Linked DNA regions of Homo sapiens: region 1 is linked to region 2. Evidence: fine-mapped expression QTL. A gene starts in region 2. The other region holds a variant in brackets. All regions are shown on one strand. Distances are from middle to middle. Region 1 holds the start of ACVR2B (activin A receptor type 2B). Region 2 holds the start of EXOG (exo/endonuclease G).

Region 1 (8,338 bases), 47 kb before region 2:
AGCTAGCCACAGAGAGCTGATTGGTGCATTTTTACAGAGTGCTGATTGGCACATTTTACAGACTTCTAGGTAACCACAGAATGCTGATTGGTGCATTTTAAAATCCTAGCTATAGAGCACTGATTGGTACATTTTACAATCCTCTTGTAAGACAGAAAAGTTCTCCAAGTCCCCACCCCATCCAGAGTCCAGCTGGTTTCACCTCTCAGTAGCAACCCTGAGTGAAAAGAACAAAGCTGGAGGCATCACATTACCTTACTTCAAAATATATTACAGGGATGTATTAACAAAAATAGCATGGTACTGGTATAAAAATAGACACATAGACCAATGGAACAGAATAGAGAACCCAGAAATAAAGCCACATATTTATAGCCAACGAATCTTTAACAAAGCTGACAAGAACTTATATTGGGGAATGGAAACCCTCTTCAATAAATAGTGCTGGGAAAATTGGGTAGTCACATGCAGAAGAATGAAACCAGACCCCTATCTCTCACCATATACAAAAACCAAATCAAAATGGACTAAAGACTTAAATTCAAAATTTGAAACTATGAAAATACCAGAAGAAAACCTAGGGAAAACTCTCCTGGACATTGGTCTAGGCAAAGAATTTATGACTAAGACCTCAAAAGCACAGGCCATAAACACAAAAATAGACAAATGGGACTCTATTAAACTAAAAGGCTTCTGCAAAGCAAAAGAAACAATCAACAGAGTAAAGAAACAACCTGTTGAATGGGAGAAAATATTTGCTAAGTATTAATCCAACAGGGGACTAATATCCAGAATATACAAGGAACTCAAACAACTGAACAGGAACAAAATCCCAAATAATCCCATTAAAAAGTAGACAAAGGACATGCATAGACATTTTGAAAAGAAGACATATAAATGGATAACAGCATATGAAAAAATGCTCAATGTCACTTATCATCAGAGAAATACAAATCAAAGCCACCATATAATTATCTTATCCCAGCTGGAATGGCTACTATTATAAAGACAAAAAATAACAATGTTGACGAGGATGCAGAGAAAATGGAACTCTTTTTTATTTTATTTTTGGAGACAAGGTCTCACTCTGTTGCCCAGGTTGGAGTGCAGTGTCACGATCATGGCTCAGTGGAGCCTTCACCTCCTGGGCTCAAGTGATCCTCCCACTTCAGCCTCCTGAAGAGCCGAGACCACAGGCATGCACCACCACATCTGGCTAATTTTTTTTTTTTTTTTTTTTTTTTGTAGATACAAGCAGGGTCTCCCTATGTTGGTCCAGGATGGTCTCAAACTCCTGAACTCCAGCAATCCTCCCTCCTCGGCCTCCCATAATGCTGGGATTACAGGCATGTGTCACCACATCTGGCCGAAAAGGGAACTCTTATACACTGTTGGTGGGAATGTAAACTAGCACAGTTATTATGGAAAACAACCGTATAGAGAGTTCTCTAAAAACTAAAAACAGAATTACTATGTGATCCTGCAATCCCAGTATTGGATAGCTACCCAAAGGAAAAGGAATCAATATATTAAAGGAATACCTCCATTCTTGTTTATTATTGCACTATTCTTAAAAGAGAAGATATAGAATCAACCTAAGCATTCATCAACGGATGAACAGATAAAGAAAATGTAGTATATATACACAATGAAATACTATTCGGCCATTAAAAAGAATGAAATTGGCCAGGCATGGTGGCTCATGACTGTAATCCTAACACTTGGAGAAACTGAGGAGGAAGGATTGCTTGAGCCCAAGAGTTTGAGACCAGCCTGGGCAACATAGTGAGACCTTGTCTCATAAATTTTAATTAAAAAAAAAAGAAACCCTGTCATTGGCAGCATCGTGGATGGATCTGGATATATCTTAAGTGAACTAAGCCAGGCACAACAAGACAAATATATATTCTCACTTATATGTGGAAACTAAAATATTTTATTTTATGGCAGTAGAGAGATAGATAACAGAGACTGGGAGGGGTGAGTAGGGAGCTGGGGTGGGTGGGTGAAGAGAACTGGGTTAAAGGGTACAAACATACAGATAGAATAAACTCAATGTCTGATAGCTGAGTAGGGTGACTATATTTAAGAATAATGTATTGATCTTGGGTGATGGATACCTAAATGCCATTACTTGAACAATACACATTATATACATGCAACAAAATTTCTCATGTCCTCCATGAATTTGTACAAAAATACCTGTAAAAATCAAATTAAACTAAAATCCTTGACTGATAATCCCATTATCTCTGTCACTTCTGTATCTGTTCCTATTGAATGATTTTTCTGCTTCTTTTGGGTCACATTTTCCTGCTTCTTCCTATGCTTAGTAATTCTTTTATTAGATGTGGGCATTTAAAATATTTTTTTACTGAGTGTCAGATTGATAGAATTTCTTTAAAAAGTGATGGTTCCTCTGGTGGGTAGTTAAATTAACTTATAGATCAAGTTGATCATGTCAAGGCTTGTTCCTTTAGCTTAGTATTGAGGTTTACAATAGCCTTTATTATCTAGGGCTGGTTTAGCTCCACTATGGAGTGACTCTCTGGGTCTCTACTGAATGTTCTGAGTTTTCCATGAAGACTCCAATTTTGCTGGGTGGAGCTAAACATTTCCCCATCCTGTGTGAATTCTTGGAGGTTCTCAGGTATGTCATATACCCTGTTGTATCCTGCTCCCTCTTGCGCAGAGGCTCGCCCACACAGCTTTTGTTGCTATTAGTAGTTTGTCTCTATTTGCTTGTATTTTGATGTTTTGAGGGAAATCCTGTCACCTGGTTTTTCAGTGAGTGCACTTGGATGGTCTGGTTTTTTCCATACAGTTGCTCTGTGTTTTTCATTTTTATTTATTTATTTATTTTAATTAATTAATTATTGCTATTTTGTGAGACATTCAAGTCTTGCTCTGTTGCCAGGCTGGAGTGCAGTGGCATGATTTTGGCTCACTGCAACCTCCACCTCCTGGGTTCAAGTGATTCTCCCACCTCAGCCTACTGAGTAGCTGGGACTACAGGTATGTGCCACCATGCCCAGCTAATTTTTGTATTTTTAGTAGAGACAGGGTTTCACCGTGTTGGCCAGAATGGTCTCGATCTCTTGACCTCGTGATCCACCTGCCTTGGCCTCCCAAAGTGCTCAGATTACAGGCGTGAGCCACCATGCCCAGCCTTATTTTTATTTATTTTTAACAAACGGGGGTCTCACTATGTTGTCCAGGCTAGTCTTGAACTCCTGGGCTCAAGTGATGCTCCTGCCTCAGCCTCCTGATGTGCTGGGATTACAGGCATAAGCCATCACACCCAGCTTACTCTGTGTTTTCATGTGAAGATTTTGAAAGATTCAAAAACAATGCAGCCAACAACCTAACCATCATCTTCCCAGTCTGGTAGAAGTTTTAAGGGCCAGCATTTACCATGCTCTCTTTCCCTTGTCTCTCCAATAGTAGAAGCATGTATCAAAAGGTAGCCCTCTTAGTCTGTGTCCCTGAGTTATTACAATGAGTAGAGCTTGTTTGTTGACCTCCAATGGATATGTATCACGAGAAAGATATAAATTTTGTTATTTTAAGCCATTAAGGTTTTGGGATTTTTCCATTAGCACAGCATAATCTAATCTCTCTTGAGAGATAGTGTTAGCTTTCTACCCAAGCCAATTCATTTTTTTGACCTCAAGTAACCACCATTAAGTTAAGAGAAAGGGGCGGGGAAAGTACGAGGTCTAGGAAGAAAATAAATAAGGCAAAGAAATAAAGCACTTTGAGAACTGTGTCTAGGAAATAACAGATAGCTTATTAAGTCTTGGGGGAACTGTATTACCAAAGAAAGTATACACTGCCCACCCCTCCCCCAACAATTATACACTGTGAATGGTACTCTCATAAAATTGTTTAATTTCGTATTGCTATGCCTAAATTACCCACTACAGTGAATGTCTAACCAGGGCCTCTCAGAAACTGAGAGAGGGTGAGGCCACTTATATTTTCTCAAATGAAGAAATTCCCAAATAACATTATAAAAACTGTGGTTACTTTCAAAGTTTATCTTGCTAAATGAATGTATTTAATCCCTTAATAGAATTCATTATAATTATATAGATGCCAAGTCTTATTACAATGCTATAGTTTTCCATCTTCTTCCATAGCTTGATACTAAAGAATGTCATGTTCAACTGATTCTTCTCAATTCCTTGGTTTCTGGTCTTGATTGTTGAAGGGTGGGGAAGCCAGGGAATAGTGGTCCTAACACACTGAATGCCTTAATGGCAGAATTCACTGCCATAAATTCTACAGCAGACATTTGGGGTTTCAGATTTTTTTTGCCTTTCAGTTTTTGGTCACCCGATGTCTGATACCAAATGTGATATTTAGCAATCTTGTAGTCGTTCAAAAGAACAGAAAACCCAAATAGAACTCGTTTTTCAAATATCCATTATCACCTTTCTCAACCAGCCTAGTATTTGCTTGATGAGCTCATGATCAAAATGATGGCAGGGAATCACTTTGGTTACTATATGGAAGATTTATTTAAGGCAAGAATGAATTCAGAGGACCAGTTAAGCTCCCTTCTGGTTCACTGCTATTGCAACAGTCCAGATATAAGACAATGTTGCAGTAGTGTACATGGAAAAAAGTAGTCGGATGGTGGATACACTTTTGAGGCTATTTTGCTGATGGACTGTATATGGGAGGAATCAAGTATTGTTAC[C/T]GAAACACCAGGGGTTTGGTCTAGGTCCTGCTGCTCGGTGCACAGAAAGCCAATCACTGAGATGACAAGTATTGCCAAGGAAGAAGGCTTTAATCAGGTGCTGCAGCCAAGGAGATGGGAGTGCAGTCTCAAATCCATCTCCTTGACTGACCAAAACCAAGGGTTTATATAGCAGGAAAGAAATGTAACAATATGTAAGAAAACAGGAACATGGGAGGGGCAAGGAAGCAATCATGGTGACTGAGGGGCCCAGCATCTAGTGCAGTGATCTGGTTTCAGTTCTTTTGATACTTTTTATGGCTTCAGTTCTTTGATACTTTTTGTGAGAGGCCTGAAGGTCCTTTCCTGAGGAAGGAACTCGGATAAAACAAGTAAGTTTCCAGCTTTAACTGCAAAAGGGTCAACTTCTATAATCCCAGCACTTTGGGAGGCTGAGGCAGGCAGGTCACCTGAAGTTGGGAGTTCAAGACCAGCCTGGCCAACATGATGAAACCCTGTATCTACTAAAAATACAAAACTTAGCTGGGCATGGTGGCGTGCCTGTAATTCCAGCTACTTGGGAGGCTGCGGCAGGAGAATCACTTGAACTCAGGAGGTGGAGGTCGCAGTGAGCCGAGATCGTGCCACTGCACTCCAGTGAGGGCAATAAGAGCCAAACTCTGTCTCAAAAACAAAAACAAAAACAAAAACAAAAACAACTGTCTATGGGACTCTTTGGCTGGTTTCAGTAGGACTCATAAGGTTCTGATTTGAGCAATGGTGTAGTTGCTTATGCCATTGATTCAGACAGGGAAAACTGGGGAGGAGATTTACGGGGAAAATGAGGACTTCTGCTTTGGCTAGGTCAAATTTGAGATGCCTGATAGGCTACCAACTGCAGTTGTCAAGTAAGCAGTTGGATATAAATTTGGGGTTCCCAGACAGGTCAGAGTGGAAGACACAGATATTTGGGCAGCTTGGACCACTCTGAGTCCTTATTATGATACCTGACCTGGTATGGAGTAGAAGAGAGGAACCAGCCAATCTAATTTTTGGCACATGGATAAAAGTCGATACCTTTCAGTCCATATTGGAATGGAGATAACGATTTATACTCCCTAGAAAAGACACTTAAACTGGATATGGAATTACTTCCGTTATCACAGTCTATCACTGTGGCCTCCTGTGTTATTACCAGATACCTTATACACAGCTAGGGTGTCCCATACAACACTGCTTCTTGCTTGGCACACAGTCGCATAGTATTCAATCCTGTGTTAAATGGCTTAGATAATAAGTCACCTGTAGGGATTATAGCAAGCAGGGACCATCATTTTCACATAGAATTTCCCAGGACTGGAAGGGACTTTTAAAGACCCAGAAATCTTTCTGGGCAGTGCCTCCAAAGTGTGGCCCCTGAGGTGTTCCTGCTGCTCTGGTGACCGGGGGTAGTTGACCCTATTTCAATGTCAATCAGAACAATATACATTCCTTTATAAACTTGTTTTTTTTTTGAGAGAGAGTCTCACTCTGTCACCTAGGATGGAGTGCAGTGGTGCAATCTCAGCTCACTGCAACCTCCGCCTCCCTCCTGTGTTCAAGCGATTCTCCTGCCTCAGCCTCCTACCGAGTAGTTGGAATTACAGGTGTGTGTCACCATGCCCAGCTAATTTTTGTATTATTTAGTAGAGACAGGTTTTTGCCATGTTGGTCAGGCTGGTCTCGAACTCCTGACCTCAAGAGCCTCCTGGGCCTCTAAAAGTGCTGGAATTACAGGTTTGAGCCACCTCGCCCTGCCTATAGTGAACATTTACATAATATTTTGTTTGACTAGGTTTCTGCCATTAAGAAGATGCAAAACCCTGAGGGAGTGTACCTCTTCACTTTGCATATGGGAAAACTGAGGCTCAGAGAAGTGAAATGACTGAGACCTCCAGGTGCCACCTCCCTTTCAGCTGCTCCTGCCCTGCTCCAAGCAAGGATGTGCCAAGTCAAGAGAAGACAGAGGACAATTAATGTTATCTGAGGATCTCGGAGCCTCATCCCTGAGCTATGATGGTCTTTCCCTCCTTAGTTGGGAGCCCCATCACGTTCCTCCGAAGCTCTAGTTGTGTGATAAGGAGGGTGGAATCTGAGACAGAGAACGATGGCCCTCCAAGGAGGGAGTTCGGGGTGAGGAAAACAGCAAAACCATGTGCTAGACAAGATCTTCAACTGCAGGGCTCTGGAGGCAACTGGGAAGTTTTGAAAGTGCAGATTGAAGCTCAGGGCCGCTGTGGGTGGCGCAGGAACTGCAGAAGACAAGATAGGATTAGGGAGGGCCAGCAGGTTGCCAGAGGCCCTTTTCCACCTGCTGGGCTTAGAGGGGCGGGACTCTGCCCGCTCCCTCACTTGGTTGGGTTTAAATGACCACTCCCCGCCCTAGCTGTGCCTTTGAGTGTGTGGCAAGGGATTGCAGACGGGAGACTGCTTGTCAATTCAGGGAAGTCAGCCTCTTTCTGCCACTTAATTCGCCCATCAGTAGAGATCCGACTTTCCCACGGTTCACTGTCACCCCCATTGCACAGGTGGGGAATCCAAGGCACAGAGGCGTCTGGGCCAGAGTCCCGGGACTATCCACTCATTCCGGGGTTGTAGGGCAGCATGTGTCAGGAGCTTGGGCTCGAGCGTGCGGGGCACTAATTGCGAGTGCAGTGGCCACAGGCTCCCGGGCAAAGTGGTCAGGAGCCCATTCCCGCCACCTCCGTCCGCGCGCCCCGCCCTGTCCTCCAGCAAGTTGGTGCACGCGCGTCCTCCCACAGGGCGCGGGATGGGGGCGGGGCCTCCGTGTTGTTGTTTCTCTGGGGCCCCGCCCCTCAGGGGGGCGCGGACCACGCGGCCGGAGGGCCCGCCTCCCCTCCCCCTCCCCGCCCAGCCCGCCCGCCTCTTTGTATCCAACATCCGGGTTTCCCCGCTGGCTCGGCTCCGTGGCCGCCGCTCAGGAGCCATTTTGGACTCGGTTCAGCTCCCCTCCCCCCCACCCCTCCCCCCGTTCATGGCCCCTCCGGACTCGGCCCCTGCGCCCGGGGCCCGGGCCCAGCCCCGCCGCGCTATGCCTGAGTCGGGCGCGCCCCGGCCCGTGCCCCGCCGCCGCCCCCCGGCCCCCGCGTCGCCCCGGAGCCCGGGCCGCAGCCTGCGCCGCCCGCAGCGGCCCTGAGCCCGGCCCCGCCGACCGGCCCTTGGAGCCCGAACGCTGCTCGGGGACGAAGGCGCAGGAAGCGCGCAGGGAACGAGACCGAAGGAAGGAGCGGGAAGGAGAGCGCAGCCGCCGCCTGGCCCTGCGCGCCCCGGGAGCGCCGTGCGGCCCTGCCCGCGGGCTCCGGGTGTGCGCGGGGCGGCGCCGCGGAACATGACGGCGCCCTGGGTGGCCCTCGCCCTCCTCTGGGGATCGCTGTGCGCCGGTAAGAACTGGGCGCGGCGCGGGGACGCCGAGAGGGCGCGCGGGGCTGGCCTCTGGCGCCGCGCGGTGTTTACCAACAAAGGGCGGGCCCGGGGCCTCGTCGCCGCACCACCTGTATTCAGCCCTCACCTCCGGGGGCGTGGGCTGGGGGCGCGGTGGGCGCCCGGCTCGCCGAACTTGGGGGCACGATCTTGTCTGTGCAGTCATCTGCGGGA
Region 2 (8,338 bases):
GTTTGAAATTAGATCTGCTAAGTTGGGGTTTTGCTGCTTGAACTCTGCACTGGGTCCTCAAATAAACCGATGTGAATGTAGTTTTTTCCCCCTGTGTGAAGAAGCAGTTACACCCCAACAATAGGAGGAAAAATCTAGAACTATTTCAAGTTTTATCTTTTTGTATATGAAAATAAAATAATAATAAAACAATCTTGTCTTTCTTAATTACGTGGCAGGGGATTGGAGTTTCCTTTCATGAGGATTAGACATGAAATGAAATGGCGTTCGGCTGCTTAGAGGGCTGACTCAAGTCAGTTCCTGTTTGGTATGTGTAACATTAACAGATGTTAATGGCTGAATGCCTAGTCTGCCATGGTCCTGTGGGGCTGGAGCTAAGCACAGGTCTCCATTTCTGCCATTCAGAAGTCCAGGGTCTAGTTGGGGACATTATGAATGGGGACCATTCTCCTGAACGAACTGTTCTGGGATTTTGAGTAAGTTTCTGCAGGTTAGCATATTTTCCAAATGTCCAAGACACTCCCCATTCCCTCATCCTCTGCCACCAGTCCTGTACTTTGCAGACAACCCTGAGCAATATTGTTGTAAGTGGAGCAGAGAAGCCTTGAAAATAGTTGTATTCAGGACTATTGCAGATGACAAACTCTGTCATTCCCAAACGTTGCTGAGTACTGGAGTCATTTGCGGAGCTATTAAAAAATACAATTATGGGTCCTTATCCCCAACCTGGAATTAGCAAACCAGGTCTCCAGTTTCAGAGATTTGGACTTAATCTCACTAAAGGAACTCATGGTTCCCCAATAATAAAATAATGATAGTCTTTAATACCTAACAAAACAGGAAGGCCCCAGAAATCACCTCACTGCTTTCTGCAGTAACAAGTTTTTTTGGTCGATGACTCTTTCTTGCCTAAGTGGAGAAACACCCTTTAAATTCACCCTTTATTATGAGAATTAAGCAACGGTTTGAAACTTGTGGAGAAAGTTTTTGATGACCCTTTATTCAGGGACCAGTTGCCCAATATTTGGCTGTTTTTGCTCTTTCACGTTTAGAAAGTTCACCTTTTATTAGTGAGTGCCTCTAATGAAGGAAGGAGAGCAAAGGGCTGACATTTTTGATACAGGATCTTGGAGCTGGAAAAGCTGAAAGGTTGGACCTTAGGAGTCATCTGGTCAAACTTTCCCTATAGCAAAGGAATTCTTTGACCAAAGAAATTTGACACAGAAGTTGGTTTATAAAACCAGGCTTGTCTGAATGAGCAAGTAGAAGAGGGCCAAGGGACCATTTCACTTACCCTCCCATCCCTTCCTTTAAGTCTCAGGTATCCCTATGGAACACCTAGGAACCTTGATTAAAGTTTACAAATCACTGGCCCAATTCCAATTTTACAGGTGGGCAAACAGGCCCAGAGGGAGTTTTCCTACCCTGAGGCAGGCAACCCTTCCAGTTCTTGACCTCTTGGGACCAAAAGTGGGGTTACACTTGTTCAGAAGTAGAGGATCTGGATTAGGAAAAGCCATCTAATATTTATCTCTCTAGTATTTAGCACAGTGTCTGGCACTTACAAGGGCCTTAAGAAATACAGTACCTCAGTGATTGTGTATTTAGTAAATTCTGGGGAAAGCTGCTGAAGTAGCCTTGAAGCCTACAGATACCAGTGTTGTCTGGTTGTATTTGTTAGGATTCTTGGTTGCAGGTGACAGAAGCCATTAGACAAAAAAGGGGGTTTCACTGAAAGGATTCTGGGGGAAATGACTAGCCAAGACTTCAGAAAGGCAGGATGTATGTGGGCTTCAGGAGCCTGTGGGAGTTGGGGTCATAACATTGCAGGCCTCCACCTGTGTCCTGGTATTTCTTCCATTATTGCTCAGAGCAAGACCAGATGCATCTGCTCCTTTGACTTCTTAGCAGGAAACAAGGCTGTAGACAGTGCCAGAGCTTTTTTTTTTTTTTTTAGACAGAGTCTTGCTCTATTGCCCAGATTGGAGTGCAGTGGCACGATCTCAGCTCACTGCAACCTCCGTCTCCTGGGTTCAAGCAATTCTGCCTCAGCCTTTCGAGTAGCTGGGATTACAGGCACGCGCCACCACACCTGGTTGATTTTTGTATTGTTAGTAGAGACGGGGTTTCACCATGTTGGCCAGGCTGGTCTCAAATTCCTGACCTCAGGTGATCCTCCAGTCTTGGCCTCCCGAAGTGCTGGGATTGCAGGCATGAGCCACTGCGCCTGTGAGTTTTACGTCACAGCTTTGCTACCCAGAGAGACTACTAGATCGAAAATCCCTAGGAAGGACTCTGGTTGATGTAGCTTAACCAGTCAGGGTCCTTCAGAAGAGGTATTCCTGGCAAGGGGGTAGCCTCCCATTTGAGGCTGTCAAAATAATGTGCACACTTCAGTAGGTTGTTAGAAGTGGCCTCCTGGTCAGTGAATCATCAGTGGGATCAGATGAAAGTTATTCCTACCAGTTATCTAAGAAATAGGAAACTTGAAGTTTCTGCTAAGAACTAAGTCCACACGGAATGCTAGAGATCATGCTGCAAAATGAAGACTCATTTGTTTGTGAGTGGTAGTCCATGAAATCTATCCTTTCTTTGCCAGCAGGCGTTCAGCAATCTGGATTTTATATTCTATCAAGACAAAGAGTAGAGATGACTCAAACATTTCTAACATTTATAGAGCACTTAGTGACATGCCCCTGGTACTTCCCTAAACATTTTACATGTGTCATCTCCTTTAATCCTCACAAGAACGCTATGGTCTAAGTATTATTATTCCAATTTAAAAGAGAAGGTTGGGGACAGTGACACACACCTGGACTTACAGCACTTTGGGAGGCCGAGGCGGGAAGATTGCTTGAGGCCAGAAGTTGGATACCAGCCTGGGCAACATAAGGAGACCCCCTTCTTTACCGCTCCCCCACTCCCGCCAAAAATTTAGCCGGGCAATGTGGCACGTGCCTGTAGTCCCAGCTACTCAGGAGGCTGAGGCAGGAGGATCGCTTGAGCCCACGAGTTCGAGATCGCAGTAAGCTATGATCATTCCACTGTACTGCAGCCTGGGTAACAGAGACCCTGTCGCTAAATAAATAAATAGACCTGAGTTGGAATATCGGCTCTGGAGACCTTAGTGTAACCATGCGCAAGTGTTTACTCACCTATTAAATGAGACTAAAGGTATTTTCTTCTCATGACTATATATAGCATACCACTAAGCCCTCTAGACATCATATTCCCCATCCATCGCCCCGTCCAGTGGACCAGGGATGAAGCGGGGATGCGCTAGGCATCCCGGTTTGTCACCAGGGGGCGTGCGAGGCCCTCAGCTTGGCGGGCGGTGAGGCGTGGGGTGACGGGGGGATGGCGGGGGCCGGCATGCGCGCGCATGCGCCGTGGTAAAAGGCCGGTACCTCGGGCAAGATGGCTATCAAGAGTATCGCTTCCCGCCTCCGGGGTTCCCGTCGTTTTCTGAGCGGCTTCGTGGCTGGGGCTGTAGTGGGCGCTGCGGGAGCTGGGCTCGCGGCCCTGCAGTTCTTCCGGAGTCAGGGCGCTGAGGGAGCGTTGACAGGGAAGCAGCCGGATGGTAAGTCTGTGGGCCCGTCCTCCCTTCGCTGGCCCAGATTTCGGGCTCCGACTCCTACCTGGAGTGTGAATGGCAGTCCTTGACGGACAGCCTTCACCGTTTGCTGGGCCCCTAGCCTGGCCCTTGGTTTCTGACCTTTATTCTCCCGGCTCGGCCTCCCTTCCCCACCTCGCGTCTCGCCAGCTTCCCTCATGTCCTTCCTTCCCCCGGGCATCTTCGTTTTCTGCACAGAACCACCCCCGCCGCCCGACTTTCTTCCCCCCAGTTACTCATCGCGATATCTATGTTTTAATGTCTGTGTTCTCTACTAAGATTGTTAGCTCCATAAGACTTGAGACTATGTCTGTTTTGGTCTCCATCATCTAACCAGCACAGTACCTGGTACATAATTGGCATTCAGTAAGTATGAATGAAGGAATAAATTAATACATAATTTTAGTAGATGAGTTAACTGCCCTTCTTTCGTCATTGTTCAGTTGAAGAATACCTGCTATCCCTCCAAAGTGTATAAAAACTCATGTTGCAATGGGTACCTTATATTTGACAAAAAAAAAAAAAAAATTAACACGAGCTCATTTCTTGTACTTTGCGGATGTGCTAATTTAACTTGCTCCTTTGGATACTTGGCATCTAGCAAGAGAACTACCCCCTTGGGGGGTTGAGGATTTGAGAAGGCATCGGGGAGGATTATCTCGAAACTGACTCACTGCTGAATGTGTGCTTGGTTTCTCCCACTAGGAAAAACAGTACCAGTTTTACTGTCATCTTGCAACAGCACACATATCAGTGCTTCAGAGATGATTTGGAAATTTGATGTGAAAGACTAATAAGATCAAGTCTTTATTCAAAAGTTAATGCAGTAGCTGCATTTTATTCACTGATTATAGGCAAATCAGTACTTTGCCTACTGTCTGTTTTCTTCATCTCATAAGTAATTGCAAAAATGAGATTTTCTGGTTGATTAGACTTCTGAGCCAGTCCTTTGTAAATCACACCGCTCTCCTTTTCCTTATAATCTTTCATTATTAAGAGCCACTAATTGTGTGTGTGTGTTTTTTTTGTCTCTGCCCCCCCTTTTTTTTTTTTTTTCATTTTTAGGATCTGCAGAAAAGGCTGTCTTGGAACAATTTGGATTCCCTTTAACTGGAACAGAGGCAAGGTGTTACACTAATCACGCTTTGTCTTATGATCAGGCAAAGCGGGTGCCTAGATGGGTTCTTGAACATATTTCCAAAAGCAAGATAATGGGTAGGTGGTTGGATAAAAAAACTGAAGTAACAGTATTTATGAAAGATGTCTCCAAATTTAAAACAGGGATGATTATTAATATTCTCAACCTTTTTCATATCATAGCACATGTAGAAAATTATATTTATATAACTTACTGGTTAAATCAACCCTGCCTGGCAGCCAGAAAGCCAGACCCTTTCCAGCTGTCTCAGGGCTGAAAATACCCATATCTTGACACACTAGTTGGGAGGCTCTGTCATAAATATTACAGCAATGAGCACCATTCAGTTTTACCTTAACAAATATTTATGTGCCTGCTATGTGTCTGGCACTGTGGTAACCCTTGGGGACCTATGTGTGACCAGAGTAGAGGATCTCTACCCCAGTGACACTTTGAGTTGGGAGAGTGGGTTGACCCATCAAACAAATAATTTTAGATGTATAATTACAATAATTTTTCCAAAGGAGGTGATTGCAAGTTAGTGTAGTATAATTAAGGAACAGTAAAAAGTTTGATGAGAGGCTGGGCGTGGTGGCTCACACCTGTAATCCCAGTACTTTGGGAGGCTGAGGCGTTTGAGCTCAGGAGTTTGAGATGAGCCTGGCCAACATGGCAAAACCGCGTTTCTACAAAAAATACAAAAATTAGCTGGGCGTGGTGGTGCACCTCTGTGGTTCCAGCTACTTGGGGGACTGAGATGGGAGGATCTCTTGAGCCCAGGAGGTGGGGGTTGCAGTGAGCCAAGATCGCAGCACCACACTCCAGCTTAGGCAACAGAGGGAGAATGTGTCTCAAAAAAAAAAAAAAGTGTGATGAGAGATTATAACACAAGAACCTGATTTTGATTAGTAAGGCTTCTCTGGAAAAGTGGACTGAAGAGTGAACGGAAATTACTTAGGCAAGGGGTTGAATGTGCCATGGGATATGGAGAAGAGCATTCTAGGAAGAAAGGAACATTTGCATCTTCGGAGGCCCCCAATGTGGACAGGAGTTTTGTTCTTTTAGGGAACTAAAAGAGTGCCAGTAGATGAATGAGGGGGAAGGTGATGTGAAATGATGCTGGAGAAGTAAGCAGGTGTGTCAGTTTATTCATGTGTCCTTATGTCTTGATAGGGTCCTGTAGAATTGCCAGATCTTGATAATTAATGTCAAATTGGTTTCTAGGTAGATTCTTCAAGTTTACACTCCTAGCATCATTGTTTCTTCTCTCTCTCAACCTTCACCTATGGTGAGCATTACTGAGCTTTACCAATTTAATGCTCATTTTACTTGTGTTTATTGATTATCAATGAGGGTTAACATGCTGTGAATTAGTCTTTTTTGGTAAGTTATTCTTTACCTATTTCAGTTGGGGTATTCTCTTTTGAATTTATTTGTAAAAGTTCTTTTATTTATTAAGGATATTACCTTTTGTCACAGTTGTTTTGTTCCCTTTTGTTATTTGCTTTTTAATTTGCTGTGTGTTCCACATATTCTCCTTTGCTTTAAAATGTGTGCTATGGCTATGCATATTAAAATGCTGATATTAAAGTTAGTGTGTGCCATTCTAGAGTGCACAGCAACCAGCAGAATAACAGGAGGCTTGGAATGTACTTGGTGTTAGACAGAAACTGATGTAAGTGAAAACTTTATCAAGCATATAAGAAAACCTGGGCATTTTATATTGTATAATAAGTCTTGTGAGCTGTGTACTTTTGAGGCAATAAAATAGAGCCAATTAATATTATTTGAAAATAGGGAGCAATGTACCTGTGTTTTACTTGATTTTAATGTAAAAGGTCTTCTGTTTTCAGTAATGATGGACTGAGTTATTCAGATAGAATCTTCCTGCTGAAACAGAAAATGTTAGTATATAAAAAGTGTATATCTGTATTTTTTTTACCTTTTTTTTTGAGATGGATTTTTGCTATGTTGCCTAGGCTGGTCTTGAATTTCTGGGTTCAAGTGACCCTCCTGCCTCAGCCTCCTGAGTAGCTGGGATTACAGGTATGTGCCACTATGCCCAACTAAAAGTATATCTTTTAAAAAATGGCTTAAGAAAAATGAAGAGCCAGCAGCATAGTGGCGAATTGCTAGGTTAGTGTTGGTGGGAGAAAGCGAGAATCCAAAGAGGTAAGCGCAGTCTTGGCAAACCAAAACCACATTTGCCTTTGAATTCACAGCATTATGGGGTGAGGAGGATTGAAGGAAAGACCTAAGACTCACCCAAGGTAGATTGTCCTGTAGGTCTTGCAGTGTAGGAGACCCTTCCTGTGTTACCCTGGAACTCCAAAGGGCTACATCCTCAGGGAAGAGTGAACTAGAACTAACTTCCCTGCCCACTCTTAGGGACTACATGGAAGGTTGTCTTGGCACTGAACGGAGAAAGGTCAAAAGGAAGATAAAAAGTTTGTTCCAGAGAAGGTAAAGTCAAAAACTGGCTATCATGCAGACTTACAGCCCAAATCTGTGCATCGAGAGGAGATCAGGGAACCTTAATCCCTGAGCATGGTTTAATACGGTTCTCCACTGGGAATACTGCTAGACACCTTACAGCAGTAAATTTATATCTTTTCTCAAGGAAGGTATCTTTTTAGGTCTTTGGAAATTCCTACAAATTGCTTTTCCAGGGCAGTAAGCACCAGCCAAAGATAACTAGCTGTAGAAGGAAGTGATTCCAATGGTAATGACACTTAGAAATTTACTAATGATAAATTTTTCTGTATTATTCTTTATAAAGTGATTCTAAAAAGCTACATATATGATACTTTACTGTAAACTTTGGGATCTGATACTAAATTTTTCTTGGCTGAATGAAATCACCTTGGAATCAGTGACTTCATTGTTCTCCATTTTACACTTCTTTGAATAACAGTCTGAGTATGTTTCATTTGTTGTCATAACTTTTGTAGTTTAAGAAAGTCTCACCTCACGATAGTGCAATAGGTAGTGTTAGGATTTGCTAATGTTCTCTGTGACAAACCATTCTGGAGGTGTCAGAAAATAAATAAAATCTGAGATTTCTTCTCTCCTATGTGGTACCCAGATATTCTGTTTTAGAAATTTCTGGGTGGAGCTCATAACTTAAATGTTTATTTTGTCATGGTTCGAGAGGCAGTAAGCAAGATATCAGAGACACTCCTCTCCCCAAGGCTGTGCTTGCCTAGAACAAATTGTTTTGTGTCTATATATATCCATTATTTCAGTACACATAAACTTGTCAAATACAATCGTACAAAATACAATACATGGGAGTCTTTTTTAAAAAACAAGAGTTTATTTAGTAGCCAAGCTTTTTATATAGTTTAGTGTTTTGATTGGTGATTGTTTTTACTTAAAATACTATTCAGAGGAGTTTTTCTTTAACTGGAAAGGCCAGAGTCAAAATTATATGAGATAGCTACACTGTATGAAAAGCATTCTTTCCTAGACTAGTACTTTCTAAATTCAGATGAAGTATCTGAACTATCCCAGGAACTTGAGACATGCATGCAATCCCTAATACTAGCTGCTTGGAGAGACACCAGCCAGTAGCAACCAGCTTGCCT

The links. PIP is the estimated chance that this variant, and not a neighbour inherited with it, causes the effect.
Region 1: its variant is fine-mapped to the expression of EXOG in whole blood (TOPMed, PIP above 0.99).

Annotation. Positions count from the first base shown.
Region 1 is chr3:38,446,251-38,454,588 of GRCh38, forward strand. ACVR2B (activin A receptor type 2B) reads left to right here and starts at 7,640. Exons shown (of 11, transcript NM_001106.4): 1 at 7,640-8,124. The coding sequence starts at 8,073. ACVR2B-AS1 (ACVR2B antisense RNA 1) reads right to left here. Exons shown (of 2, transcript NR_028389.1): 1 at 8,253-8,338; 2 at 4,777-6,975. It also overlaps a transcript of XYLB not described here. RefSeq lists enhancers at 7,222-7,721, 8,326-8,338 and silencers at 7,440-7,489, 7,500-7,619, 8,040-8,319. The variant C/T (reference allele first, on the strand shown) is at 4,706.
Region 2 is chr3:38,492,951-38,501,288 of GRCh38, forward strand. EXOG (exo/endonuclease G) reads left to right here and starts at 3,390. Exons shown (of 6, transcript NM_005107.4): 1 at 3,390-3,580; 2 at 4,679-4,828. The coding sequence starts at 3,418. ACVR2B (activin A receptor type 2B) reads left to right here. Exons shown (of 11, transcript NM_001106.4): 11 at 1-192. RefSeq lists enhancers at 3,539-3,588, 3,649-3,718.